2 separate regions of the Homo sapiens genome follow, and region 1 is linked to region 2. The links come from fine-mapping of genetic effects on gene expression. A gene starts in region 2. The other region holds a variant in brackets. All regions are shown on one strand. Distances are between the middles of the regions. Region 1 holds the start of AKIP1 (A-kinase interacting protein 1). Region 2 holds the start of DENND2B (DENN domain containing 2B).

Region 1 (13,868 bases), 100 kb after region 2:
AAGTTTATTATCTTAAGGTTCTGGAAGTCAGATGTCTGAAATGGTTTTCACTGGACTACAATCAAGGTATCTGCAGGATTCTGTTTCTTTACTCCAGCAATATTATGCTTATAGTTTACATGGTATATCTTTTTCTTTAACTTTCAACTTATTTGTGTGTTTGACTATAAGTTGTGTTTCTTGTAGACAGACAGTTGGATCTAAGCCAGTCTGACAATCTCTGCTTATAGAATGGGCTGTTGAGACCATTCACATTTAACATTATTATCGAGATGGCTGAATTTACATTTGATCACAGTGGTGCAATCTCGGCTCACTGCAACCTCCACCTCCCAGGTTCAAGCAATTCTCCTGCCTCAGCCTCCTGAGTAGCTGAGACTACAGGCATGCGCCACCACACCCAGCTAATTTTTGTATTTTTAGTAGAGATGGGGCTTCACCATGTTGGACAGGATGGTCTCGATCTCTTGACCTCATGATCCACCCACCTTGGCTTCCCAAAGTGCTGGGATTACAGGCATGAGCCACCACACCTGGCCATCTGTATTTTTTAAAGTTTTATTTATTTATTTATTTTTTGAGACAGAGTTTCACTCCAGCATAGGCCAACATGGTGAAACCCTGTCTCTACTAAATATACAAAAATTAGTCGGGTGTGGTGGCATGCACCTGTAATCCCTGTTACTTGGGTGGATTAGGCAGAAGAATCAATCACTTGAACCTGGGAGGCGGAGATTGTAGTGAGCTGAGATTGCACTACTGCATTCCAGCCTGGGTGACAGAGTGAGACTGTCTCAAAAGAAAAAAAAAGGATATTACAAGTTGACAAAACTTTAACTAGACTGACCAAGATGTTAAAAAAAAAAAAAAAAAAGCAAGAGAGAGAAGGCACAGATTACCATAATCAGATCTTAAAGAAATAAAAAAGATTGTGAGGGAATATTACCAATAGCTTTTTGTCAACAAATTAGACAACTTAAGTGACTGGGCAAATTCTTAGACACCAAGTATTGAAACTGACTCAAGATGGAATAGAAGATCACTTGAGTTCAGGAGTTCAAGACCAGCCTGGGCAACATGGCAAAACCACATCTCTACTACAAAAAGTACCAAAAAAATTAGGTGGGCCTAGTGGTGATGCATGCCTGTAGTCCCAGCTACTCGAGTGGCTAAGGTGGGAGAATCACCTGAGCCCAGGGAGTTGAGGCTGTAGTGAGCTGTGATTATGCCACGGCACTCCAGCCTTGGCAACAGGAGTGAGACCTTGTCTCAAAAAAAAAAAAAAAAAAAAAAGAAGGAATAGAAAATATAAGTAGACCTAAAACAAGGAAAAAAGTTGAATTAGTAATTAAAAATCTTCCCACAAAGTAAAGCCCAGGCCCAGATGGTTTTAATCAAATGCTTAAGAATAATACCAATTCTACACACTCTTCCAAGAAATAGAACATTCCTAAATCATTCTATAAGGCCAATATTATCCTAATACCAAAAGACACAAAGACCAGAAACAAGAAAACTAGAGATCAATATCCCTCATGAATATACACAGAAAAATCCTCAGTAAAATACTAGCAAACCAAATTCAACAACGAAAGATTGGCTTAATATCCAAAAATCAATTCATTCAACACATGTTAATAGAATAAAAAATAAAAACCACATGATCACATCAATGGACATACAAAAAACGTCTGAAAAACTTCAAAAATCATTCATGATAAAAACTTTCACTAAACCAGGAATAGAAGGAAACTTCTTCTCAACCTGAAGAAGCTAATTAAAAATAATTTTTAAAGATAGATGAGAACTTCCTTAACCTAATAAAGAGTATCTACAAAAAAACAAATATCATACTTAATGGTAAAAGGCTGAATGTTCTGCCTCTAAAATTGGGAACAAGGCAAAGATGTTCCCCTTGCCACTTCTATTCAACATTGTACTACAGGTTCAAGCCAGTGCGATTAGGCAAGAAAAAGAAGTCCTGATTGAAAAGAAAAAAGTTAGCCTTTCTTTATTCACAGAAGATCTGATCCAGTATACAGAAAATCCTAAAGAATCCACAAAAAAATTCTTAGAACAAGTAAATGAGTTTAACAAGGTTACAGGATACAATATCAATATGAAAAAGTCAACTATATTTCTATACACTAGTAATAATTTCATCTGAAAATGAAATTGAGAAAACAATTTCATTCACAACAGCATAAAAATACTTAATAAATTTGTTAAAAGAAGTGCAATATGTACACTAATCACTACACAATATTAGTAAAAAAAATAAAGAAAACTGAAATAAATGGACAGACATTCCATGTTCATAAATTCAAAAACCCAATATTGTTAAGATTGCAATTCTTCCTCAATTAATCTGTGAATTCAATATAATCTCTATCAAAACATCAACAGTTGTTACACAGAAGTTGACAAACTGAATTTAAATTTTATGGAAATAATGACTGTACTAGAATATAAAAATAATTTTGAAAATGAAGAACATAGTTGATATACTTCCCAATTTCCAAACTTACTACAAAACTACAATAATCAATACAGTATAATATGGCATAAGGACAGACATATAGATCAATAGAACATAATTTAAAGTCTAAAAGCTAACTCTTACATTTATGGTGAATTGATTTTTGACAAAGTTGCCAAGGGAATTTAATGAGAAAAGGATAGTCTTTTATACAAATGATACTGAGAAAATTGAACATCTGCATGAAAAGAAATGAATCTAGACCCTTACCTCATAATGCACATAAAAATTAATGCAAAATGGCATAGAGTTAAATGTAAAAACTAAAATATACAACTATTAGGAGGAAACATAGAAAAAATCTTCAAAAAAAATTTTCATGACCTTAGGTTAGGCAAAGATTTCTTAGATATAACACCAAAAGCACAATTTATAAAGGAAAAAAATTAATAAGTTGGAGTTCATCAAAACTTTAAATGTTAGTACTTCAAATTACACCACTAAGAAAATGAAATACATGACACAGCCTGGGAGAAAATACTTATGAATCATACATCTGGTGTGGGTGCGGCGGCTCAAGTCTGTATTCCCAAGAGAAATGAAAACATGTGTCCACACAAAGTCTTACTATGCATTATCAGTCAAAATAGCCCCAAACCAGAAACATTTCAGATGACCATCAACCAGTAAATGGATAAACAAAATGTAATATATTCATATAACGGGATAGTATTCAGTCATAAAAAAGAATGAAGTATTGATACATGCTACGACATGTGTGAGCCTCAAAAACATTATGCTAATTAAAAGAAGCCAGGCAAAAAAAGGTCACATATTATCAGATTCCATCTATATGAATTGTCCAGAAAAGGCGAATTCATAAGACAGCAAGCAGAAGACTGGTCACCTAGGACCAGAGGCAGGAGCTGAGAACTGACTGCATATGGTATACACTAGGGATTTTTCTCAGGTAATGACAGTGTTCCAAAACTGCACTTTGGTGATGTTGACAACTCTGTAAATTTACAAAAAATACTGAAATATACACTTAAGACAGGTAAATTTTATCATATGTACATTATACCTCAATAAAGAAGTCTTTTTTTTCTTTTTTTTTTTTTTTTTTGAGATGGAGTCTCGCTCTGTCACCCAGGCTGGGGTGCAGTGGCGCGACCTTGGCTCACTGCAAGCTCTGCCTCTCAGGTTCACGCCGTTCTCCTGCCTCAGCCTCCCCTGGGACTACAGGCTCCTGCCACCACGCCCAGCTAATTTTTTGTATTTTTAATAGAGATGGGGTTTCACCGTGTTAGCCAGGATGGTCTCAATCTCCTGGCCTCGTGATCTGCCCATCTCAGCCTCCCAAAGTGCTGGGATTACAGGTGTGAGCCACCGCGCCCAGCCAAGAAGTCTTCAAAAAAAAAAAAAAAAAAACTCTACATAAATTTCAACTGTTTATATTAAATATCTTCCAAATACTATTCCTTTGATCTCTGACTTTTAAAAATGACAAGATTTCAATCATTCCTGCTCTGCAACCAATTTTTTTAACTCCCAGTCAATTTTAAACAGATTGTGAAAGTTAATTCTCAGAAGTTTGATTCATTTTCTTTAATCTACATCATCAAGATGACAATTTTGATAATGAGTTTCTTTCATTCCCCCAATAACCCAGTGAGATGATGTAATCAGGCAAAATGAATGATCTAATGACTCAGTCTGTAATACTACCTTACAAAGCTGTGATGATTCCAAAGCTCTTAAGTCTGCTGGAGAAATAACAATACCATTTGTCAAATAAAATGATTTATACAGTTTCTGGTATGTACAGTATAAATCACTGTCTAACTCTGGCACAGTACCCACTTTTGCATCCTGGGTTTTTAACCCTTTTTGGCCCCCTTCACATAAAGAAAAGGAATTTACATTGCTCTTCACTGGACTTGTTTTTTCTCCTCAAAAAGTCCCAAATACAGCACCAGTCTCTTTCCCCATTTCACAATTAAAGACCTCTTCCAACGCATCTCCTCCAAAACATAGAACCCTGACAACTAACTTTCATCTGTTCTCATTAGTGAATTTACCCTTGTGAAGATAGAAGTCATTAAAAACTCATATCAATAGTTTATTTTTCTGTCAATACTGACAGTCTATTTCCCTGTTGACCAGGCACATTCCTAATTAGTTGCCCTCTCTCCATTTACAATTCCATTTTCAGTTCTCACCAGTGGCTTTCATTTGGCGTGGGCTATATTTGATCCACAAGGGGCCTGATGGTAGGTCATGTTCTATCATTATTCCCAGCCAATCTTAAAAAAGATAAAAAGGAATCTCTCAAGTCTCTCAATCTGTGGTTTACAGGATGAATCTTTAAAATTATAAATATGCACATATAAAAATATATTTACAAATATATTTACAAATAGAAAAATAAAAACAAATGCAAAGATTTAATTTAGAGTCTTTTGGTTTCAGTTTCATTTCAAGCATCTTCTTTCCCATAAATTTCTAAATGTTAAATTCTGAGAAAATGTAGTTACAATTGAATATTCATTACATTCATTAAAGTTCATGTAGGTAGGTGTTTTTTTAATAGAAAAGCCAACTCTTTTTTTTCTTAAGATAGGTTCTTACTCTGTTGCCCCGGCTGGAGGGCAGTGGCACGATCATAGCTCACTGCAGCCTCAACATCCTGGACTCAAGCAATCCTCCCATCTCAACCTCCCGAGTAGCTAGGACTACAGGTATGAGCCACCATGCCAGGCTAGTTTTTTAATTTTTTAAAAAATAGAGACAGGGGTCTCACTATGTTGCCCAGGCTGCTGTCAAACTCCTGGCCTCAAGTAATCCTTCCACCTCAACCTCCTGAACTTCTGGGATTACAGGTGTGAGCCACCACAAAGCCACCTCTTTATGTGGGCTAACAGAAGTCTATTTAACTTAAAAATTAAATCAGAGTAATTTCAACAAATGGCTACTGAACACCCGCTACTTAACAGGTCCTGGAATGTTTAGGGACAAATAAGGAACAGTTTCTGCCTTCAAGGAATTGAAAGGCTATTGGGAGAGAAGAAACCATAACTACACATAATTTAAATTAGATTGGAAAAGTACACACAAAAAATTTTTTTAAGGCTATGGCAACAGAGGTGGCAACTGGGAACCACTGGGAAAAGTTTCAAAGAGCTGACCTGACAAAAAGAAAGTAGTGCCTCAACTGGAATGACTAAAATAGAATGGGGAAGAGAGACAAATGAGATGAGGTGTGGCTATGATACTGGGTAAGTGAGAGCATATTTTGGGAGACCAGGCTGAAGCTTAAGATAATAATACTAGCTAATATTTATTGAGCACCTACTATGTACCAAGTACTATAAATGCACTTTATAGATATTAACTTACTTGATATTCACAATAACCCTATGAGGAATGTGCTAAAACCTTGAAATCCATAAAAAATAAAGAGGACCAAATTCTGTCCCACTCCAACCACACTTATTGTAAAAGCAGTTAACGGGTATCTTATCTACCTCTTCTCTCACTGATTCCTAGGCCATCAGGCCTAGCTTGAAAACTACATTCTCTGCAAAACCTTTCTTGATCCTCCCAGCTGAACATAGTCTCCTAAGCTTGATAGCATTTTATCTGTGTCAATCTTATGGCATGTCCGAATATTTTGTTCTTGGTATTATAGATTTTATGTGCATTCTTTCCTCTTTTTTATTCTCCTTTAGTCTGATCCACATTCTGTTCTCCACAACTCCTAGGGCAGTGCCTGGCACATACTAATGCTAGCTAAGTCTATGGAGCACTTATCTTTGCCGGGCACTGTGCTAAGCATTTTACAGGAATTATCTCACAGAATCCTAATGGCAACCCAATTCACACATTCAAGGGCTATTTTTAGTCCTTACTGTGACAGACAAAATAGTAAATACTAGATGCACCTTAAACTCTAAACACTACAGATACAGTCCCTTCCCTCAAGAAGCTCAGTCTAAAGAAGTTAGTACTATTGGAATCCCCAGATATAGAGATGAGGAAAAGTGAGGCTCAAAGAAGTAATATGTTTGCCCAGAACCACAGAGCAAAAAAGTGGCAGAGAGCCTGGGCAACATAGGGAGACCCTGTCTCTACGAAACATTTAAAAAATTTGCAGGGCGTGGTGGCTGAAGAAGAGGATCGCTTGAGCCCAGGAGGTCGAGGCTGCAGTGAGCCGAGATCGTGCCACTGCACTTCAGCCTGGCTGACAGGGTGATACCCTCGTTTCTTTATTAAACAAAAAAGAAGAAGAAGGAAGAAGGAAGAAGAGGAAGAAGAGGAAGAGGAAGGAGGAGGAGGAGGAAGAAGGAGAAGGAGAAGGAGAAGGAGAAGAAATGGAAAAAAAAAGATGGCAGAGCCAGAATTCAAACCAGCTCTCCCGAGTGGATATACAGGACCCCATGCACGTACAACCACTATGTTCTAAAGGAGGCACTTGATAAACCCTTATTGAAGGAAATGTTTTGGAATACCAATAAAATGAAAAAAAAATCATCTCAAGAATAATGTAGGGTTTCACTCACTGTTATTCTTTTTTATAAGGGGAAAGCAGGAAATTTGCAAAAGTTAAGTAGCATAGAAGGAGGTCGTATTGGTCGGCTACTACTCACCTGGTACCTGATAATTGCTCATCAAGCCATCTGTTGAGACTAGGTGAGGATGGAGTTTCTCTCCTTTTTCATGAACCACAGAGGAGACTTAAAGGAGGATTTATTTGTGTTCCTTAAAGTGACCCCCACTGAGCGTGTCCCTCAAAGTGGACCTTCCTAAGCATCGGCGCTTTGCTTTGCGCTGGGTGGTGCGGCTGAGTCACTAATTAGCAGTGAGAGCCTGGGCTGTATCTCCTACCAAATAACCAGCGGAGTGGAGTGACAGGTCCTTACTTAAACATGGTTTAAGTAAGCATTCACAGTTCCTTACTTAAACATGGTGCAGTCTTCCTAAAAGATGGAGTCAGACCCCAAGAGAACAGGTCTCCAAAAATATGTGAATCCGTACTTCCCACTGGAGGGGAGAGAGAGCTGCGCTGAGGGATTATGAGAGACCCTACAACTTCTCAGGCGCCCCCTGCCCCGGGGGCCAGGAACATCTGCAGACAGCCCCGCCTCCGTCTCGCCTCAATCCCGAGCTGTTCCCTTCTCCAAAGGCCACCTTGGCAGCCACACAGTTTGGCCTAATCACCTCCTCAAACAAGAGTAGCGACACCCCAAAATGTAGACCAAGCAGAAAGAGGCGCGGGAGGCACTTGCCTTATTCCCCATGATGTTTTTGTTTTGAGACGAAGTCTTCCTCTGTCGCCCAGGCTGGAGTGCAGTGGCGCGATCTCGTCTCACTGCAACCTCCGCTTCC[C/T]GGGTTCAAGCGATCCTCCCACCTCGACCCTCCCGAGTACCTGGGACTACAGATGCGCGCCACCACTCCTCCTACTGTGTGTGTGTGTGGACACGGGTTGTCGCTATGTTGCCTACCTAGCTGGTACCCCATAACCACTCCTGGCTAGTGTGTGTGTGTGTGTGTGGACACGGGTTGTCGCTATGTTGCCTACCTAGCTGGTACCCCATAACCACTCCTGGCTAGTGTGTGTGTGTGTGTGTGTGTGTGTGTCTACACGGGTTCTCGCTATGTTGCCTACCTAGCTGGTACCCCATAATTTTTTAGCTCAACAGGAGACCTGCCTTTATACCCACCAAGTTAAGCAGCGCAGTAGCCCTCTAAGGGCCAGCCCCACGCCCAGAGGCTCCTCTGACAGCGTGGACAGATGCCCTGGGCTGCTGGCTCGACTCAGTCCTCAGCCCCCAGCCCCCGACCCCCGACCCCCGGCCCCCGACCCCCGACCCCCGGCCCCCAGCGCCCGGCGCCCCGCCTCCAGCGCTCAGCAGTTAACCAGGCAACTCGCGCGCAGACGCCAAGGCTGGGACGCAGAAGGCGTGTTTGGCCGCCCAGCCGCCCCGCCTCCCCCACTTCTCCCGCCTCTCCCGCCTCTCCCGCCTTCCGCCAATGGCCCAGCTGCGCCGGCGCCGCCGGGAGCGCTAGGCCTGGTCCCTCTTCCTAGAATAGCGTTGCGCGCATGCGCCTTGACGAGTGAGCCGGGTGAGGGGGCTCCCTAAGTAGCGGAAGGGGTAGATGAAAATGGAAGGGGCGGGCGCGCTAGGCCTAGTCCTGGCTGGGCTCCCGCTGGAGTGTGCGTTGGGGGCGGACCAGGAGCGGTGGTCTCCAGGGAGGTCGAGGCTGGGGCTCCCACCCGGATTTGGAGCAGGGTCGCCGCGGCCCAGCTGACCCGCCGGCGTTTGTACGTTGTGTGCCCACTCAGGGAGCCATGGACAACTGTTTGGCGGCCGCAGCGCTGAATGGGGTGGACCGACGTTCCCTGCAGCGTTCAGCAAGGCTGGCTCTAGAAGTGCTGGAGAGGGCCAAGAGGAGGGCGGTGGACTGGCATGCCCTGGAGCGTCCCAAAGGCTGCATGGGGGTCCTTGCCCGGGAGGCGCCCCACCTAGAGAAACAGCCGGCAGCCGGCCCGCAGCGCGTTCTCCCGGGAGAGGTGAGGGTCGCTGTGCCGGGGGCCGCCCCAGTCCTTCGCGCCGCGGTAGCCCGCTGGGAGCCAGGGGTGCGCAGCGCAGAAGCAGCTGAGGAAACCTTCCCTTAGCGGAAGCTGGAAAGGATCAGAACAATGAATGGAAAAGTCCTTTCAAAACGCTTTACATTTGACAGATTCTTGTTGGGTAGCTGTAGAATAACGGTAGTGTTCAGCCCTGGTTGGTTACTTAAAAAAAAAAAAAAAAATTAGCCGGGCGCGGTGGCTCATGCCTGCAATCCCAGCACTTTGGGAGGCCGAGGCGGGCGGATCACCTGAGGTCGGGAGTTCGAAAGCAGCCTGACCAACATGGAGAAATCCCGTCTCTACTAAAAATACAAAATTAGCCGGGCGTGGTGGCGCATGTCTGTAATCCCAGGTACTAGGGAGGCTGAGGCAGGAGAATCGCTTGAACCCGGGAGGCGGAGGTCGCGGTGAGCCGAGATCGCGCCATTGCACTCCAGCCTGGGCAACAAGAGCGAAACCTCCGTCTCAAAAAAAAAAAAAAAAAAAAAATCTTACAGCTATCATCTGATAGTAGAGGAAAGCCTGCAAGCCTGTCTCTTAGATCCTGGATAAATTGCATGTCTATCTTTTAGAGTTGGAATTCTTTCTCAATAACATCGTTCTTTCTGACATAAACTTGCAGAGCCTTTCCAAAAGTAAAAAGGAGACTATTTCCAAAATGGCTTCATTCTCCAGTAGGGAATCCTAGAGCTAACCTGTGACGTGCCATTTATTCAAATAGAGAGAAGAGAGACCCCCAACCCTTAGTGCTTCCTTCAGAACAATGGCTGAATTCATGGACTATACTTCAAGTCAGTGTGGGGTAAGTTGGTGTGAACCAAAACTATGCCCCATCACCTGCTGATGGACCACATTTGGATCTTTCTGGAATTTACGGAGAATCTGGACACTACCTGTTTCTCCTGCCCAGCCTTCACGGTCAGATTGTAATCAGTCAAGGACTTAAACCAGGGGGTAAATCCAAGTTAGAATTCACCCAATAAATGTTTATTGAATGCCTAACCCTGTAGCTGACAATATAGCAATGAAAAGTCAGAAAAGGTCTTCTGCCCTCAGTGATCTTTCAGTCTAGTGGGGGGAAAATAGCTTATTTGCCGAATTTCATAGCAAATAAGTTAAATATTAGGGGTTTTTTTTAACTTTTTTTTTTTTTTTTTTTTTGAGACAGAGGCTTGCTCTGTGGCACAGGCTGGAGTGCAGTGGTGTGATCTCGGCTCACTGCAAGCTCTCCCTCCTGGGTTCACACCATTCTCCTGCCTCAGCCTCCCTAGTAGCTGGGACTACAGGCGCCCACCACCACGCCCAGCTAATTTTTTTTTTTGTATTTTTAGTAGAGACGGGGTTTCACTGTGTTACCCAGGATGGTCTCCATCTCCTGACCTCGTGATCCGCCCGCCTCAGCCTCCCAAAGTGCTGGGATTACAGGTGTGAGCCACCGTGCCCGACCTTTTTTTTTTTTTTTTAATTGAGACAGAGTCTCACTCCATCACCCAGGCTGGTGTGCAGTGGCTCAGTCTCGGCTCACTGCAACCCCTACCTCCTGGCCTCCTGGTTCAAGCGATTCTCCTGCCTCAGCCTCCCGAGTAGCTGGGACTACAGGCACATGCCACCATGCCTGGCTAATTTTTGTATTTTTAGTAGAGACAGGGCTTCACCATGTTGGCCAGGCTGCTCTGGAACGCCTGACCTCGAGGGATCCGCGCATCTTGGCCTCCCAAAGTGCTGGGATTACAGGCTTGAGCCACCATACCCAGCCAAGTCATCTTTCGATACTTAGGGAATGTTGAGGGCAGGCCAGAAAACATTCAAGGAAATTACCTGCATGGAAGGCACTGTCTTCTAGGAATTACAGCAGGCTCTGGCCTCATGCAGTCTTAACACTTGGTGAGTCCTACATGGTTTTAAGGAGGCTGATCCACAAAGGAGATGGAAGAGAATACCTTGTTTCTGCCCTGCTTTTCAGTTTCATATGTTAAGATCTCAAAAAACTCTAATCTTTCTACATCTTTTATAAGAATCCCTGACTCCAAGAATAGGATTCCAACCAAAGAGGAATACTTCAGGGAATATTTTTATCTTATTTGTGTTGTTCAGTGGTTTTACAAAAATCAATAGCCTCAACTCTACTGTAAAGTGATTAAACCCTTGGTTCATGGTTCAGCAAAAGGAATAATATTTGTCTTTGGTTTGAGGTTTAGCAAATTGCTGTTCTTCATTTTTGTTTTCAGTTCATGCTTCAGTTCAAGTCTCTGTTATGAAATGGAGCCTCAGAACCTCTTGGCTTTCTAGAGATAGAATTAAGAATTGTGTACTGGGTTTGTCTCCACAGTTTGAAGCAGCCACTAAAACACATCTTTAGGTCTGTGTCCTCAAGTGCTTTCCCCAGCTTCTCGTTCTTCTGGTCACATGTTTTTTAGACAGTGTGCCTACCCTGTTCAAAACAAGCAGGGCTGTGATGTCATTAGTCATTATCAAGGGCAAGTCTAAGGCTAACTTTGAGGGGGAGGAAGGAAGCAGACAAGAGAAATGTAACTGTTTTCCGATCTTTCGGAAGATTCTTCTTAAATTAGAGACTTCTCCCTCCACTCCCCCACGCGCAGGAAGCACAGAGAAAAGGGCTGCAGAGCAGCTCTTGGGTTTGTTTCATTTCCTGCTGTGTTTCTAAATCTCAGGAAAATGTACCCCTCTCTTCCCGTGTCCTGGTCTGAGACTTAGACAATAAACATGGAACCGTTCATCCACATTTTTTAGGGGAGGAAATGAAAGGATATGTGCATTGGACATGGGGGCAAAGATGTGAAATTTGTTTAACCTGGCAGAGAGCATGGTCCTGCCCACCTTTAGTTAGCCAGCGTTCTTGCCCTATGGAGGCAGCAGGTGGCAGCACGGGGATGCCAAATGCATTTCTTTCTCTGCAGCCACTTTGGGTGGGCTAAGGTTTGTTGCATGACTTCAGAGGCCTGTCAAGAGGGCAGGTAATTCACCTTTGCTCTCTTGCCTCCCTCCTTAACTGCACTTTGCCCAAATATCAGGGTTTTTTGAAAATTTGACAAGACAATTTGGTTAGCTAACATCTTTGACATTACGTCTCTAGAAATATTATTCATCTGTGCCAGAGGAAGGAGGGGCAACCCATGTCTATCGTTATCACAGAGGCGAGTCGAAGCTGCACATGTGCTTGGACATAGGGAATGGTCAGGTAAGTGTACTCAACTGTCCTGCACCATGCCTTCAGTCTACCAAGATATGACACCCTATATTCAAGAGCCCCTGCTAGACTTTGTGTCACTGGATGCCCGTGTGACTTGGCATTACAGTGCTTAACAGAAATGTGTAAATTCATAGCCTTAGAGAACTTACAGCAATGAACATGAAATAGGAGGTTGTCAAAAATATAAGATTGATGCCACTGTAGGATCTTTAGTTGAACCTGCAGTCCTGGGCCATGGGATTCTCCAGCAGGTTTAAAGAAAAGAGCTTCCAAGCCTGGAATGTGGTGTATGCAATGATCGCCCCTGTGACTATCCCCTGCATTCTATCCTGGGCAACATAGACCCTTTCTCTAATTTTTTTTTAAAAGAGCTCTAAATATCCTCTTCTACATCTAGGGATAGGATTTTTTTTTTCTTTTTTTTTTTTTTTTTTTTTTTGAGACAGGGTCTTACTCTGTCACCCAGGCTAGAGTGCAGTGGAGCAATCATGGCTTACTGCAGCCTTGACTTCCTGGGCAGGTGATCCTCCCACCTGAACCTCCCAAGTAGCTGGGACTACAGGCACATGCCACCACACCCAGCTAATTTTTAATGTTTTTAATAGAGATGGGGTTTTGCTATGTTGCCCAGGCTGGGGGAAAAGATTTTTAATAATTACATTTTTTACTATAAGGTGATAACTGTCATGTCTTTGGTAATTTTTTTTTTTTTTTGAGAGGGAGTCTCACTCTGTCACCCAAGGTGGAGTGCAGTGGTGCGATCGCGGCTCACTGCAACTTCTGCCTCCCAGGTTCAGACAATTCTGCCTCAGCCTCCCAAGTAGCTGGGACTACGTGCACACACCACCAGCCCAGCTAATTTTTGTATTTTTCTTTCTTTTTTTTTTTTTTTTTTTGTGGAGTCACAGTCTTGCTCTGTTGCCCGGGCTGGAGTGCAGTGGCACAATCTCAGCTCACTGCAAGCTCTGCCTCCCTGGTTCACGCCATTCTTCTGCCTCAGCCCCGAGTAGCTGGGACTACAGGCGTTGCCACCACGCCTGGCTAATTTTTTGTATTTTTAGTGGAGACGGGGTTTCGCTGTGTTAGCCAGGATGGTCTCGATCTCCCGACCTCGTGATCCGCCTGCCTCGGCCTCCCAAAGTGCTGGGATTACAGGTGTAACCCACCGCGCCTGACCCATTTTTGTATTTTTTAATAGAGACAGAGTTTCACCGTGTTGGCCAGGCAGGTCTTGAACTCCTGACCTCAGGTGATCTGCCTGCCTCAGCCTCCCAAAGTGCTGAGATTACAGGCGTGAGCCACCATGCCTGGCCCCTGTCTTTCATAATTTTTAAAAAGAAAGTACAAGGGAAGTGTGGGGACGGGGGTCTCTTTTAACAAAATACTTTTTGTAAAGGTAATAACAGTTACGGGCCTCTCACTACAAACTTACCTTTTACCACATGTCATTCTGGGGAAGCCAAAGATTCTGCTTATTGAACTGATTCAAAGGAGGAGGTGGTGGTGGTGGTTTCTGAGGAGACTAGGTTTTTGCTTTTGTTTTA
Region 2 (17,076 bases):
AGGGCCTTGCATTTCTCAGCAGAACAAACCCAACAGACAAGCCACAAAGAAATAAACACAGCTGCCTGGCGTGGTGGCTCACGCCTATAATCCTAGCACTTTGGGAGGCCGAGGCAGATGGAATGCCTGAGCTCAGGAGTTCGAGACCAGCCTGAGTAACATGGTGAAACCCCGTCTCTACTAAAATACAAAAAATTAGCTGGGCATGGCAGCATGCACCTATAATCTCAGCTACTCGGTAGGCTGAGACAGGAGAATTACTTGAATCCGGAAGGTAGAGGTTGCAGTGAGCCGAGATCGTGCCATTTCACTCCAGCCTAGGTGACAGGGCAAGACTTTGTCTCAAAAAAAAAAAAAAAAGAAAGAAAGAAACAAACAAACACTCCTGAGGCTGGGTGCAGTGGCTCACGTCTGTAATCCCAACACCTTGGAAAGCCGAGGTGGGCGGATCACTTGAGCTCAGTTCGAGACCAGCCTGGGCAACATGAAGAAACCCCATCTCTATAAAAAAAATTATAAAAATCAGCCAGGTGTGGTGCACATTTGTTACTCCAGAGGCTGAGGTGGGAGGATCGCTTGAGCCAGGGAGGCAGAAGTTGCAGTGAGCCAATATCGCACCACTGCACTCTAGCCTGTGTGACACAGTAAGGCCCTCTCTTGGGGAAAAAAAAAAAAAAAAAAAAAAGGGCCGGGTGCAGTGGCTCACACCTATAATCCCAGCACTTTGGGAGGCCTAGGCAGGTGTATCACCTGAGATCAGGAGTTCAAGACCAGCGTGGCTAATATGGCGAAACCCCATCGATACTAAAAATACAAAAATTAGCTGGGTGTGGTGGTACACACCTGTAGTCCCAGCTACTTGGAAGGCTGAGGCAGGAGAATCACTTGAACCCAGGAGATGGAAGTTGCAGTGAGCCGAGATCGTGCCACTGCACTCCAGCCTGGGCGACAGTGAGACTCTGTCTGGAAAAAAAAAAAAGGAACTAAACACTACTTGGTTTACAAGAGAATAATAAACAAAACAATAACTGCAAACATTTTGTTCAGCAAGGAGGCAGGAAGTACTATTCTAGGCACTTTACATTTGGCATTTAGGCTTTGTTACAGCCCCATGAGATAATGCTACCACTGCCTCAATTTTACGGAAGAGGAACCAGGGCACGGACAAGTAACTTGTCCAAGGTTACAGAGCTATTAGGTGGCAGAGGCAGAATTTGAACCCAATCTGACCCCAGAGCCCAGGCTCTAAACATTACTCTCCTATTGGATGGCTCTTCCCCTAAGACACAGATTTGCGTCTGGGCACTAACTGGCTCACCCTAAACTCTAAAGGAGAGGGGATTGCTCAGAAAACACTGGCATTTTTCGCCACTGAGAAAAGGAAACAGTGATGGAAATATTTATTCAAAGACCTGGTCTAAGGCTACAGAGCCAAACAAATAAGTACCCCAAACATCTGTTAACCAAAATTTTCCCAGGGCACCAAGAGAAACCTACCTTCTTACTTACTAAAGGCTGAGGCCTCCTTGTACTGCCCTACGCATTGGAGAACAAGCTTCCAGCCTCCGAGTTCTGAGAACCAAGTCAAAATGCTTCCTAGAATCTGGTTGATGGGGTTAAAGAAAAGTTACTCAAATATTTTTTAAGCACCAACTATATATGTTAGCCATTTGGGGAAATAAAAAGTATAAAATATTATACTTGATTTCATACAACTTCAAGGAATCTAGTTGAAAACACAAGATATACACATTTGAAAAGTCAAGTCAGGGCCAGGTGTGGTGGCTCACATCTGTACTCCCAGCACTTTGGAAGGCCAAGGCAAGCAGATCACTTGAGGGCAGGAGTTGGCCACCAGCCTGGCCAACATGGTGAAACCCCGTCTCTACTAAAAATACAAAAATTAGCCAGGTGTGGTGGCGCACATCTGTAATCCCAGCTACTGGGGAGGCTGAGGCAGGAGAATCGCTAGAACCCGGGAGGTGGAGGCTGCAGTGAGCCAAGATCATGCCACTGCACTCCAGCCTGGGCGACCGAGCGAGACTCTGTCTCAAAAAAAATGTCAAGTCAGGATGTCAATGAGAACACTGAATCCATGCCTTCTACTTTCTGGAAGAGGAGACTGAACCCTAGAGAAGTCAAGTTACTTCCCCAAGATCACCCAGCAAATTAGAGACAGAACCAGAACTAACATCCAGACCTGCTGACTACCTGGCTGGGACTTTCTACCGCTATATGTAGGCAGAGAAATTCACAGGAAGGATGGATTATTAACAACAGCAGCAGCTAACATTTATTGAGAGCATATTTGTGTCTACAACTAAGTCGAGTGCCTTACATAAATTAACACATTGAAACCTTACAATAACCCTTTGAGGTGGGTAATATTATCACTCCCAACTTACAGATGAAAACAGAGGTTTACAGAGATGAACTCACCAGAGGTCCACAGATAGAGGAAAAACCAGACTATGGACCCTCAGAGCTGGCTGCAAAGCCTATTCTATGCTCTAAGCTGCATCTGGAAGGGTACAAGGGCAGTATTTGTGGAAGCAGGGGTAAGGAGGGCTGAGGCAGAGGCCGGGGTCTGGAGCACTGAGAGCAGCTTGTGAAGGGCCTCCAATACCACACTGAGAAAGACCTCAGGGGCTCCACCTAGGCTGGCCAGCAGGAAAGGGGCAGGCGAGAAGCAGTTCTGGATGGACGGGTCTCCCCGTCTGTGAGGAGTGAGCATCCCACAGCAGGAGGAAAGAGCTGAACCTGTGAAGCTGGGTTGACAAGGACTACCTCAGACTCAGGACTTCTGGCCTCTCCAGTGTGGGCGGCTGCCGTGTCCTCAAAATCTCATTGGCCCCTACTCCTTCCTCTTAAAGGACACTCTCAAGTACCTTCCTAACGTGTAGGCCAGGTCTGAAAGGGCAGTCCTCCTTGGCTGCTGGTGACTTTCCAAAGCAATTGTCTTTCTCTCCCTACCTTGTCCATGGCTCCCTGTGCCCTTTCTTTGATCATTCTGCCTGATGCAGCAGCCATAAGACATGGGGAGCTGTCTGTCAAGTGGCAGGAACTGAACACAAGCAGCTTTGAGAGGTGGGGAGGAAATCCTGTGTTATTAGGAAATCTTGTATTATTACACACCCAGGACTGCACAGACCCCAGACCAGACTACCTGGGGTCTTGACAGAAAGATGAACGAGATGCAAAATAGCAGCTACTTCTTTTTTTTTTTTTTTGAGACGAAGTCTTGCTCTGTCGCCCAGGCTGGAGTGCAGTGGTGCGATCTCAGCTCACTGCAACCTCCGCCTCCCAGGTTCAAGCTGTTCTCCTACCTCAGCCTCCCGAGTAGCTGGGATTACTGATACACACCACTATGCCCGGCCAGTTTTTGTATTTTTAGTAGAGACAGGGTTTTACCATATTGGCCAGGCTGGTCTCAAACACCGACCTCAAGTGATCCACCCACCTCGGCCTCCCAAAGCGCTGGGATTACAGACGTGAGCCACTGCGCCCAACCAGCAGCTACTTCTAAAAGAAGAATCTGGTTTGTTCCCAGCGTAGTAACATCAACCTGTTTGAGAGACACCAGCCCACTCTCTTCAAAATGCTGCTGTAAGTTGATAATAATATACTGGAAAGCATTGGACATTTACTATGTACCAGGCACTGGCCTATTTACAGGTATCATTTCATTTAATCCTTACCACAACTCTATCAAGTCAAGTACTATTACATCCATTCTACAGATGCCTCAAAGAAGGCTGATGCACAGAGAGATTAAATAACCTGCCCAAGGTCACACAGCAAGGTCAGGCTCTAAAGCTAGGCCTCTAAGACCCCTGAGCTATAGCTGTTCATCACTGCAGTGCACTGCAATGCATGTCAGATACTCATATTAAATGCAAATGGTTCCATCAGAATTGCTCTAAGGCAGCACCACGCACTCACTGAGTACCTAAGAGTCACTGAGAGTTGAACAAACACACCACAGGCTAGTTCATTTTAAAACCATCTACAATACTCAGTTGTCAGAACTCCATAAGGTAGCCTGTGTTCCAAGTCACAAGCACACCAAAAGTCAGTTCCTCGAACAAAACTAGAGTTTTAAAAATAGCTGACTTGATAGTTTTTTTCCAACTTTCCCATTTCCCCTTTCCTATGACTCCCTCCCACATACACCATCCTTTGACACTGTCAAGAGAAGCTTCAACACAGGCCTAGAATCCTCACCCTCCTACTTCCAGTCCTTCAGTTGGCTCTCTTCCTTCATTCGAATCGTGCTTGAAATCAGTCTGTTGGACCCTCCTCCTTTTTCCCAGCCTAAGAGCATGAGATGGTCATTAACCCTACCATCAAAACTCAGAACTGCAGCAGGTCTATGCTGCTTCTCTCTTAATCACACAGACAGAGTGGGGGAGAGAGGGGAAGAAATAACTACAACACAACGTCTATTATAACATGACATAGATGGGAGTAAGGCCCATACTTGATACTTCTGCGTTCCTCCCCAGCTCTTGGCCCAGACACTCCGTATTCACTGACTAAATGGGTGAACAGACCAATACTGCATAGATGGGCACCAGAGACACCTCTGAGCCAAGAACAAACAAACAGAGGTGTTAACCCTAATGCCAGCCACCCCTACCCCCTCCAGTGCTTCTGAGGGCCTGCACGACACTGTCACCCTGAGCTCCCTGGGGGCAGTCTGGCCTTCTGCTAAATTGTGTAGGCCTCCGAGGTCAGCCCTTCTCTCGATTACCACCTGCTGCTCCTGAGAACTGCCTCCGCCCAGGGCCCCTTGCCCAGTGCCTCACTCCTGCTTCCTTCCAGTAGTCTTCCTCCTGCCTCAGATCTTGTCTCCCGTAACCCTCAGTTTATCTCATTTTTTCCCAGTTCCAAATAATCCTCCATCCACTATGTGATTTCCAACAGTCCATCTCCAGCTCACACACAACCCCTTTGGTGATGACAGGTCACACAGAGGAAGAGTCTGGAGCTTTGAGAAACTGTGGTGGTTTCGTGACAAGCCTGTAGGAATAGGTCTGCTTTGGTTAAGAAGGCTTCATACGCTAACTGCATATAATTCACTCTTTTATAAGGACAGTGAAATCTAACATTCAGGCAGTTTTAGATGAGAAGAGTATAGTGATAGTTTCAACACCCTCCCCAACAACAGTACATTCATGACATCAGAGCCAAAAAAATAAGAGAAGGGGTCTTTGGAGAAATTCTTCAATAAGGTAATCTAGACTCATTTAACACCCTCCTCTCCCTTCAAAACACACACACACACACACACACACACACACACACCCAGGAGAGCTTTCTGGGGCCTATGGCTAGAAATAGAGAGCTCAGGTGTTTCTATCAGCACAATATTACGTGGCATATTCCTCTAAGACAGATGCACCCAGTAGTTCCTCCGACCCACCTACTGAGACAGACACACATAGCACCTCCCCTCCAGGATGAAACAAATGCCTAGCCTCCCCAGCCCCTGCCTCCCCAGGAGAAGGCACACACTAATGCAAGTTTTCCCATAGGCTTTAAAGACAAATCTCTGCAGACTATGCCAGATGGTCTTTTTTTTTTTTCTTTTTCTTTTTTCGCTCTATGCCCTCCTGGCCCCTTCTCCACTTTCCATGGTCCCTCCAACTCAAAGAACTCAATTATCTGCCTGCAGATTTCCCCTTCCCCTCCTCGCAGCCTGCCCTAAACACACCCTCCTCCCAAGCCCATGCAGAGGCACAGAAGGAAGGCCAAGCCAGGGCTCGGAAGGGCTGCTGCCAGGCCTCCTCCAGCCTCAACTATGTGTTCCCCGGGCTTGGCTGCCTCGGCCGACTCTCTTAGGCCCAACGATGGAAATGGGGACGTTTCCAGGGCAATGACAGTTAACAGCTAAGAGGAGTGACAGGAAGGAAGATGTATTCTTCAATCCTTCAGTCCCAACTGCCCCACAGGGAGGTGCTTCAGAAGGCCCAGGCCTCAGAGCCTCCCATCTCCCTGAGGTGCCAGGTGGACCTCCCGTAATGCAGTTCTTAGAATCAGATGCGGTGGGGAGTGGGGCACAGCCTCTCTTAGGTCTAGGCTACCAGTGGGGCCATGATACTTGGATTGCCCTCCTGAATCTGTACACCCCGCCCTTCATTCCAGGGAAAGAGGCTGAACCAGCAGAACCAAGGGTGTCCTTGGCCTGTTCTCCAGTGTATTTCAAAGTTTCATCTTCCCGGGGTGACTGATATCTAATTTGAGAGAGAGAGAGCCCAAGGGGAGAAGGTACAGGAAGCGGAGTAGAAGGAGGAAAGAGGGAGTGAGAACAGGAATGTTACTTTTTAATCCTTAAGGAACATAGACAGATCCAATTTGTGACTCAGCTCTGGGAAGCCGGACTGATGGGAGTCGGGGAACAGCTGCAGCCCCAATCTAAGCTGTGGGCAGCTTCTCCTTCAGGCCTTAGAGGCTGTTGTGACATGACTCAACTAGAAGGGGAGCTGCTTGTTTTGTTTCATTTTTTTAATCTGCCTACTATGGGTCTGCTCAAGGGCTTCTTCCCAGACACCACTCCGGGATATGGCTGGCAGGTCTTCCCCATCCTACAGTAAAGCTGGGGCTGTGGGTGACGCGCTCTAGTATGCCATACGCCCTTTCGACTCAATGAGGACAGACCTGGGACTCTCCTTGCCTGGAGTCTCCCTTCCCCTGCTCTTCCATTCCTTGGCACAGTCCCATGGCATATCAAGAATCTCTGCCCTTGGAATTCCCACTTCCTTGTTTCTTTTTCTTTCCCCATAAGCTGTGGCCTTATGAGTTCCTGAAAGACCTGCCCAGCCCCCAAGAAGCCTTTCGGAGCAATAACACTTTCTCCCAGTTAGAACCCTGCCTTCTAAACCCAGAATGAAGGAGAAAGACCCCTTTGCCCACTGCAGAGTGTGCCCAGCAGGACCCAGCAGGATGAGGGAACCAGGCCTGGCCTCTTTTCCAGCTGCTAAAGTTTATGGTGCCACAACTCTACAGGCAGCTGTGGGACACAGGAAAAGCGACGGGTCTTTTGGAATACCTCTCCTCTATACTATATATAAACACATGAGTCAGGTGACCAAGGAAAGCTTCCTCCCTGCAGGATCGTCTATGAGGCTCCAGTTTTATGGCAAACATCACTCTTATGAAACGACCCAACCCAAGGAAAGCAACATTTGTTTCCTTAAACATCCTGAAGAAGTCTTTTCAGATTTTTCTCATGTTTACTTATAAATGCAGAAAGGAAGAAGGCACTTTATAAAATGAGAGAACCAGAACAGAGAGGCAAAGTGACTTTCCAGAGAGAGTTGGGTCATTCCTCAAGCTTCAATTCACAACACGGTTCGTTAGATAGGACGTGACTTGTTTCAAACTACTTTCATGGAAGTTATCCCACTGGCTCCTCCCAACAGTCCTGTGAAGTTGTTCTTATTACCTCCATCTCACAGGTAAGAATCTGAAGCTCCTATTAGTTAAGATACTTGCCCGTGGCCGCCCTATGGGAACAGAATCTAGCCGTCGACTCAAGTCTAGCAACCCAAATCCATTATTCTTTCTGCTATACCAACAGAAGGAGCAGCAGCTCCTGAAACTGGGTCTCTGCTAGCCCTCTTCACAGATGTGGGGATGGTAAAATTGAAGAGCTCCAACTACACACACAAGTAGAAAAGAAGGCTGAGGTTCTGGATTTACACTGCCAACTGAAGGGGCCACTGGCTCAGTGTTATGCCACATCCCTCCAGCAAAATGTAGGTTTCAACTAAGCAAAGGATCCCTGGAGTGTATGTAGCAAGAGGAATAACTTCAGAAGTGGACCGTCTGAGGTCCAGGGCCATGGAGTTCACCCTTGTGGACCCTCAGGCCACAACCACGATGTATACATGTACTCATTTTAGGGAGCCGGAACTGGGGACATGGCCAGTGCTTGCATTGGCAAGCTGATCCGAAGTTAATCAGAATGCCCCCTCATTGTTTGCCAGAATACAAAAGACATTCTGTTCAGAAAGTTCAAGAAGAAAAACTGAAGAACCAGGACAGCAGCTGTTCCCTCATCCCACAGAGAAACCAAAGGCATTTGCAAAGTTCCCTGAGGCCAAGAAGTGAATTTAAGACATAACATGGCTCAAGTGGAAGCACAACCCCTGATGGGTCTCCGTTGCAGGAAGTGTTTGCTGCATTCATCCTCCTCATAATATTACTGACAACCCCACTACCCTATCACCTATAAAACTGCCTTTCTGGGAGGGTCTCCTTTCCAAGGCCACACAGCTCACCATGTACCACTCCTCTAGGTCAGAACAAGTTTTACCAAAACTTAGGACAATCAGTGTAGGAGTGCACAGCGTGGACACTGCGTGCCCTGAGATTTGGTCAAAATGTAACCAAAGGAATCCACCCGGCACAACTACAGTGCCTCATGTTCCCCAGCTCTTAGCAGCTGCTGCTGAGAGCTCACTCTGGGACATCTGGATGAGAAACCTGTTTGCAGGCCCCCCAACCCCAAGCCAGCCCCCTCCTCCACCTCTTAGGAAAGTCTGTGATCGACCTTTTGATGTGGGAGGACAGCTTGATTCTTACCAAGCTGCCTGGAAGAGAGAGAGTGCAAAACCCCAGCTCAGGCATCCCTGTGACAGTCCCTCTGTCCTAATAAATGCTCTAGAGGGACTTGGAACTCACCACAGGCTCCTGGCTGAGCTTAATTAGCCTTTTTTTTTTTTTTTTTTCCATTACAGGTCAGACATAGCAGCACCAAGAGACAAAACAGACAGTGTTCACTAGGACGAACAAGCGGCTCAAAAGGCACTGGAGTTTCCCTGTAAGAACTACAAACACCACGGGAGTGATGTTAACTCAGATTTTTCCATATAAAAGATTCTTCCTGTAAAAATATCCTGTGCCTTTGTGCTAAATAAAAGTAAAATGATGCTTTTTAGAGTGAAGTCTAAACACCTCAGATTCAGCAAGAGTGAGATCAGCTAGATTTGCAAAGTCAAGAAAATTGGCTGTTTCCCTCCTCCTTAAGCTAATAGAATCCAACTGTTGGAGCATGACATCATTCCTGAGCCCCAAACCCCGAGCAGAGACTACAGACACTCGCCTGACTCCCAGAAAACAGCCGGAGAGAAGGGCCAGGAAAGGAGGCCAAATGATCCCAGCCCGGAGCTGCCCTTACCTGAAAGTCCCGCTGCTTTCCTGCCCACTCCATTCTCACACCGCAGCCGGCTAGGGAGCCCAGGGCCCCCAAATCCACTGGCTTAAGCTCCGATACCTGCTGCGAGCTTCCCACAGCTCCTTCCTCTGACCTTTCGTGGCGCTCCTCGCAGCCAAGTGAGCAGAGCACTGCTAGCCGGCCAGGCCGGTTGTCATGGAGACCCTGTCCTCGCTAGGCGGGCGCGCGCACAGCGGCGCGCTCTTGGCCTAGCGCGTGCACAAGGGCGCTCTCTTTTTCTTTCTTTCTCACTGTCTCTCTCTCTCTCTCTCTCTCTCTCTCTCTCTCAGTTCTGGGAGGCTTCCATGAAACAGCACTGTCTTTTGATCAGCTCGGTTTTTGCATGCATTCCACTCCTCCTACCTCCCTTCCAGTCCAACAGGGGCTCTGAACTGCTCCTGGGAACTTGCTTGAACAGCTCAGAGGGGAGAAGGGAGAAGACAGTGAGTGGACTTGTTTTCTTCCCCTCCAGTGTCTCATTTTTTATAACTTGGAAGAATCCCTGCCAGGGGGGAGGGAGCTAGCTGAAGCGCTTGAAGGGGACCCAGCTTCCTCTGGGTCCTGGAGCTCGGGTAGGAGGGACCCTGATGCGCTGCCTTGACTTGTTTGTGCACTTGGGATTTTTCCGGGCAGCAGTTGGGGCGGAAATGCACTCACATCCCAGGAGCTCGCCTGGACTGGCCTCTCTGCTTACCTTGCTGCCTGTCCAGGTTGTGGCGATGGCTTTAACCAGTGCAGGGACTCATGGTACTAGTGGTGGCGCCTAAGCAGTCTCTCATCTTCCTGAAATGGAGAGCAAAGACAACTCGGTCAGGACCAGGAAGAATCCTGGGCAAGTCGAGAGTCACAACCCAGACGACAAACCTGATACAAATACAGCCTTGTCTCTCTGCCCTGCTAAGGATCTGCAGCTAAGGTGCAGGCTTAGTGGGAGCTGCTGTCACAGTCGGTAATAATATTGCTCCTGTCAGAAAATGAGCACAGTCCCTGGGACACGGCAGACCCCCTAAGTTTAGTCCCATCCCCATCCCCATCCTGTCCCTTCCTCTCCCCCCTACCCAGCATACATTTCTGCTTTGTAACATTCTTTTTACATGTATCATTTTGTTTGATCCTCATAACCTTTTGAAATACACTGCACAGATATTTTTATGACCATTTTTTCAAGTTTATTTATTATTCTTCTTAAATTTCTTTTAGAGACAGGATCTTGCTCCATTGCCCAAGCTGGAATGCATTGGTGCAATCATAGCTCACTACATCATCAAACTCCTGGGCTCAAACAACCCTCCTGCCTCAGCCTCTGAAGTAGCTGGGACTACAGGCATGCACCACCACGCCTGGCTACTTTTTTAATTTTTATTTTTATAGAGACAGGGTCTCACTATGTTGCCCAGGCTGGTTTTGAACTCCTGGCTTCACGCAATCCTCCTGCCTCAGCCTCTCAAAGTGCTGGGATTACAGGCGTGAGCCAGCATACTGGCCTTATGACCATTTTATAGATGGAAAAACTGAGACTCAGAGAGATTAAACATTTGATCTGCACTTATACAGTTAGGCAGTCAAAGAACTAAGAGATCAGCCAAGTTCGCCCTAGTCCAGCACACTTTCAACTAAAGTATATTGCCACCTGATTTCAAAAACTGTCAACTTTTTGATAACTGGTTATGAGATAACGCTGGGCTCCCAAGGGAAGGTGGAGAATCCTTGTAAGTTGTGGCGAGATAGGCTGACTACCATCCTTTCAGCCTAAAGACCTTAAGACAGCATCTCTAAGATGTAAAACGTCCTGATGCACAGCTCGGAGAAAAAGCCCTACCCTACAGCTATATGTGACCTTGCACTTTTCTAAACGACTCTCAAAATCTTGGCTCGTCTGTTCAACATGACAGGTCTGAAAGTTAGGATTGGCATTATTATACTAATTTAACAGATTTTTTTTTTTTAATTCTACAACAGAAGTAAAATTACTTGCCCCAGGTCATGGAACCAGGAAATAAAATCTAGAAACAATCCCCAAGCCTTTCAAGTCTCTTGAGTACATTAAGCACAGTGGTTGCAACAGCACCAGGGGTCAGAAGACCTTGGCAGTGCCTGACTCCACCACTAACGGGCCATGTGCCATTGGGCAAGTCCCATGACTTCCCCCTTTCCACCTACAGAGCCTACTGACAGGGCTGGGACTGAGCATCGGAAGAGATGCTGTCCGTGAAAGCACTCTCAAGTCAGGAACTGAACTAAGAACTTTACTCCTCTTGACAACTCCTCACCAAAAACAAACAAAAAACACTGGGACAGTTAATACCCTCCCCAGGATGAGGACACTGAGGCTTAAGGAGGATATTTTCCAATGCTGCTCCCAAAAACAGTGCTCCCAAAAAAAAGGTCCTGATGTTATTTATTTATTTATTTATTGACACGAGGTCTTATTATGTTGCCCAGGCTGGTCTTGAACTCCTGAGCTCAAGCAATCCTCCCACCTCAGACTCCTGAGTAGCTGGGATTATAGGTGTGTACTACCACACCCAGCCTGATAGAATCTTTAATGCAACATCCTATGCAGAATCTAGTGGGTTTTTTTCATTAATTTCCAGCATATCACAACATTCTCAAAACAAGATTCTGATTGACTTGAGTTTAAAAGGTAAATATATACCAGAAGTTAAGGTAGGAAAGTGTTATAAAATCCAACAGGAAATGACAGAATGGCACAAATCCTAAATGGGGGGCACTACTGCTTTAGTGAAGCAATCAGAGCTTGAAAGGGAGTGAACCTAATCACCCACTATAAATCCCCAACCCCACCCAAGCCCCAGCTGAAGAATCCCAAGTCTACAAAGAAAGACAAAGAAAGACAAGACAGAAGGGCAAATGCAGTATCATCAAATCACTAAATTTCCGCCTCTTCCTTGTCCAAAAGGCATCCCTCTGCTCTCCTCCTGATCCTCAAAATGCACATTCCACTTGCCCAGTCTCCATCCTGAGAAAGAAGGGGTGATCCCACCCCTTTCTATAATAAGATAATATTAATAATACAGTAGTAACATCAGTTAACACTTGTTGAGCACCTACCATATGCCAGGCATTCTTTTAAGCAGTATGAGGGGCCAGGGGTCAGGACTGAGTACTAGAACTGATACAAGTCAGTTCCTGAAGTAATCCAAACTTAAGAAGCCCTCCAAACCAGACCCAGAATGCGGGCCATGCTCCCCCTAGTGGCATGCTGGAGTTATGGAGGTTCCTTAGGGCCTTGTCCTGGGGGAAGGGACAAAGGAAGGGCCCCATTACTGAGAGAACTGGAATCCCTGCTTGGGTAATGCTACTGTGTACACACTCCTTGAACTGGGCAGAGTCAGGGACAGCTGAATCCCACCACTGCCTCTGCAAGGCTGGATTTAGACCAATCCTACCTGACCCTTCTGAAGGATAAGGATTTGACAACCTTATATAAGCTCTCTGCTGTCTACTGAGAGGCCTGCAAGCATACATGTGCCAGAAACCTGGGAGACATCCTCAACTCTCCCTTCTTATTTCTGCCCACATCCAACCCATTTCCCAACTGCAAACAATTCTACTTCCAAAATATATCTTTTATCTGTCCACTTTTCTCCACCTCTGATGCTACCCATCTCTCACCTTAATTATTGCAAAAACCTCCTAATTGCCCCAGCTTCCACTCTCCCCTCACAAAGTCATTAGAGCTGTCTGAATCACCTTTTTTTTTTTTTTTTTTAACACCAGATCAGGTCATTTCCTGCTTAACACACTTCATTGACTTCCCACTACACTTAAGATAAAATCTAACTTCTTACCAGGACCTACAAGGCCCAGCATGATTCTCCTCCTGCCTTCTTTCAGCACACTTCCTGCCCTTCCCTGTCTGTGCATCAGCCACATACAACTGCTTTTAGTTCCCCTGAGGTGTCATATTTTTTCCAGGTTGTTTCCCGTTGCTGGGACACTCCCCTACCAAGCAGTCTTTGCCTGGATAGCTCTTACTCACCTTGCCTCACCTTGACTCTCCTGTCTCTTGACTTTCACAATCCTCCAATCTAAATGAGGCTCCCCACACTTATCCTTCAGAGCACTCACCATGCTGTGTAATTATGCATTTATACAGTTATCTGCTTAATCTCAGTCTTCCCTCAGAAGAGTTCCTTAGGATACGAACCTTGACTATTTTGCTAACCACCAATATTCCCTGCACTTTGTGCAGGGCCCAGCTCACAGCTGGCACTCAATAAATATCTGCTGAATGAAATGCATAAAACCCCATTTCTTCCTGTCCGACAGGAAGAAGAAACTTAGAGCAGCTATTTCATGTCACTCATTGCCTCTTTTCATCGACTTACAAACTATAATTACATTTCTTTTCCTCATGTGCCTTGCCTGTGGGCACAACCAAAAATTCCTGTAAAGCCTCCCTGTGGTTTGTTTCCCAGAACTTTCCTGGTAAGGTCACTCTCCTGGGGCTGCCCTCCAGGGTTTTACAGCTGCTCCCATTACCAGTGCCCACTCACAGGCCTCCACCACCACCGGGTCATTGCCAGACCACTGTGTAGGAATGGCCCAGCTCCCACGATGACAAGGTTCTCTCAGGCCAGCAGCTCCAAGGACAAAACACCTCCTCTCCCCTCCATGGTGCAAGACACTGTGCTTGTAAAAAAATACATTTTTACTAAAAAAAAAAGTCTTATGTTTCATAATTTGGAGATGGTTGTAAAAAGTTCAGAAAAAAAGGGTTCTCTTACTAAAAAGAATTTTGAACACTACAGTCTGGTGGAAAAATGAAGGTCTAAGTAACACCAACAGCAGTGTGACTACATCCAACGTTCCCTCTTCTGGCCTACGCTCCCACCCAAATCTGAAATCCTCTGGCTTCATCTCTTGCCCACACCTCCCCTGCTACCAACCACCCGATTACAGGCACAACCACAGTGCACTGCCTGGTTCTTTGAACACTGCCTGCATTTTCCTCTCCCTCCCTCTATGGCTCATGCTGTTACCTTTATCTGAATGCCTCTCCTTCCCCCACTAACAAAATCTTACTGCCTTCAAGGTCCAACTCATTTATCACCTCCTCTGTAAAATATTTTTCAATCTCCTGATAGAATCTGTTTGTCTCTTCTGCAAATCAACAGCAGTTTAAAGATGCCTTTACTATAGCGTTGATATCACTTTATCACTGTTACTTGCACACCTGTCTCCCCCACAGACCTGAGCTCCTCGAGGTGTATCCACTTTAGTATTTCATTCAATGTATGCAATAAGTGTGTGTGAGATAAACGAATCATTGAAAAGACTCTCCAAACAAACAAACAGAAACAGCTATTTCCTCTCTTAAGGTGAGGGAATTTGAGTGGATGGACCTACATTGTACAAGAAAATACATATATGTAAATCGGATTTTGGATTAGGTCACTAGAGGGGTTTATAGTACTTTCTTGTCTCTTTAAAGACAACTGAAATTCTGAACCTGAAAACACAGGAACAGAGTAAATCTTTTCAAGTCATTCCTTACTTTGGGATCAAAGAAATTCAAGTAAAATGGGCTGTTCTTTCAATATTATTGGTTGGATCTTAGAATGCCTAAGAAATGGCAGTCTAATTTCAAATGCCTCTGGGAAGCCTAGTTTCTAATGCCCCCCAGACTGGGGTCCAGTGGTATTCCCACTGAAAACATCCAGTTCTACCAAATTAATGGGTGATCAGGTCAAGTGCAGTGGCTCACACCTGTAATCCCAGCACTCTGGGAGGCTGGGGTGGGAGAATTGCTTGAGCCCAGGAGTTCAAGACTAGCCTGGGCAACATAAGGAAACCCTATCTTTACAAATAATAATTTTAAAAAATTGGCTGGGCATAGTGGCACACGCTTGTGGTCTCAGTTACTTGGGAGGCTGAAATGGGAGGATCGCTTGAGCCTGGGAGGTTAAGGCTGCAGAGAGACATCATCGCATCACTGCACTACAGCCTGGGTGACAGAGCAAAACTGTGTCTCAAAAAAAAAAAAAAAAGGTGGGGGGAATCAAACATATTCCTCTCCACCAATTCTCCTACACTGGGTTCTAGCTGCCATTTATAGAAGAGCCCTTAAGGGCTTTACAGTTTTCCTCTTCTGCCTGTGAATGGCAATGTGGTCAAGAGGGAAGCTTTTAAAATTCAAGAGTAGACAGCTAGCAGGCTGGAGCCCAGTCCTGGCTTCCAGCTTTCTGGAATGGTAAAATCCTAGGCAAGTCCCTGTCTCCCTTAGGGGCCTTTGCTTTTTCCTCCACATGAGAGGGCTGGACTAGCTGTTCAAGCATCCTTCGGCTTGACTGTCCTACTGCATCATTCTACGCAGTCACCCAGTCCTACTGCTTTCTAAGTCCAAAGCAGCAGAAAGACTCCTTTCAGCAGAGCCCCGGGCTTGGGGCTTTGGGATCAGACAGAGGTCCATCACCAATGAACAGTAGCCTTTTTTAGAAGAAAAAAAATGGAAGACTCAGGCTTCCTGCCTAAGGAGGGCTGGACAGAGAAGAAAGGTGCTAAATTACAGAATGGGGAAATTAGGAAATGGCCTGGAAGAGGACTAAGGCTCCTGCTGAGGTCCTTGCTCAGACTCACCCCTATCCATAAGTCTGAGACAAAGTTGCCTTTACAAAGCAGACATTGAACAGCTGACAATACCTAAGTTCTCTTGGAAGACAATCTGTCTACTGCAAATCAAGCATTCTCTACCTGGGTGCTATGAGGGCCTTCAGATCAACAAAACAAATGTCTTCCTCAAGATGGCAATCCTGGGCCCCCTCCACCTGGAAGCCACATCTGGCAGGACCTGCACAGTGTTGACCACTGCCACACAAACTTTGCTTGCACAGCCTTCCTAGGAAGGCAGAGAAATACCCATTCTGTGGTCAAGTCCTAGTGTTTTATGATAGGAAGTTTTCCCAGGTCCTTACTCCTGACCTAATTCCCCCTGCCTCTCCTACCACCAGCACCCCACCCCTGACCTTAAGGCTCTGAACTAGGGAAGTGTGGAATTCAGTCTATAATTCTTCTAGACCCCACAGCCCTGCAGTGAAGCAGCTACCACACACCTTCATGCTAGGTTGCGCCCCCTCTCCTTCAGTCTGCCAGTCATCCAGCCCTAGTTCACCTCCGCTCAGCTCACAACCCTCCGTATAAAGCTCAATGTCCAGATACTCACAACATAGGTACTCACAGCTTGCTTCAGTTTCTTGGAGTCTCTGTGATAACGTTAATATATAAGCCAATTTTCTGAAATCTCTCAAATCCACAGGCCCCTGACCACTGTCCCTTATTAAGTCGGAGCATGTTAACACTGGGCCACATAAACATAGGCTTCCAGCCAGGAAAGACTGGATCAAGGAAGCAATACCCTAGATCCCCATGAAAGCACCATTTTACCCTTCTAAAATAGGCTTTCTGGCCGGGCGTGGTGGCTCACACCTGTAATCCCAGCACTTTGGGAGGCCAAGGCTGGCAGATCACTTGAGGTCAGGAGTTTGAGACCAGCCTGGCCAACACGGCAAAACTCCGTCTCTACTAAAAATACACAAACTAGCCAGGCATGGTGGCAGGCGCCTGTAATCCCAGCTACTCAGGAGGCTAAGGTGGGAGAATCAGTTGAAACCTGGGAGGTGGGGGTTGCAGTGAGCTGAGATCACACCACCGTACTCCAGCCTGGGCAACACAGTGAGACTCTGTCTCTAATAATAATAATAATAATAATAGGCTTTCCAAGCTTAGCTAGCTCAGAACTCTGAGTTCAACAATGACCTTAACCTACCATGATTAAAATCTTCAGGATTGCGGAGGCAAGGTGCAAAGTGGAGGGAAAGGGAAGAGGTAGGGTA

What was found.
Region 1: its variant is fine-mapped to the expression of DENND2B in whole blood (TOPMed, PIP above 0.99).

What each region holds. Positions count from the first base shown.
Region 1 is chr11:8,902,619-8,916,486 of GRCh38, forward strand. It overlaps AKIP1 (A-kinase interacting protein 1), which reads left to right and starts at 8,571. Exons shown (of 6, transcript NM_020642.4): 1 at 8,571-8,605; 2 at 8,826-9,053; 3 at 9,835-9,915; 4 at 12,208-12,312. The coding sequence starts at 8,832. It also overlaps a transcript of DENND2B not described here. RefSeq lists a silencer at 8,336-8,615 and enhancers at 8,706-8,775, 8,786-8,875. The variant C/T (reference allele first, on the strand shown) is at 7,868.
Region 2 is chr11:8,801,333-8,818,408 of GRCh38, forward strand. It overlaps DENND2B (DENN domain containing 2B), which reads right to left and starts at 9,342. Exons shown (of 20, transcript NM_213618.2): 1 at 9,185-9,342. DENND2B-AS1 (DENND2B antisense RNA 1) reads left to right here. Exons shown (of 5, transcript NR_120590.1): 5 at 8,745-8,944. RefSeq lists enhancers at 4,264-4,765, 4,766-5,265.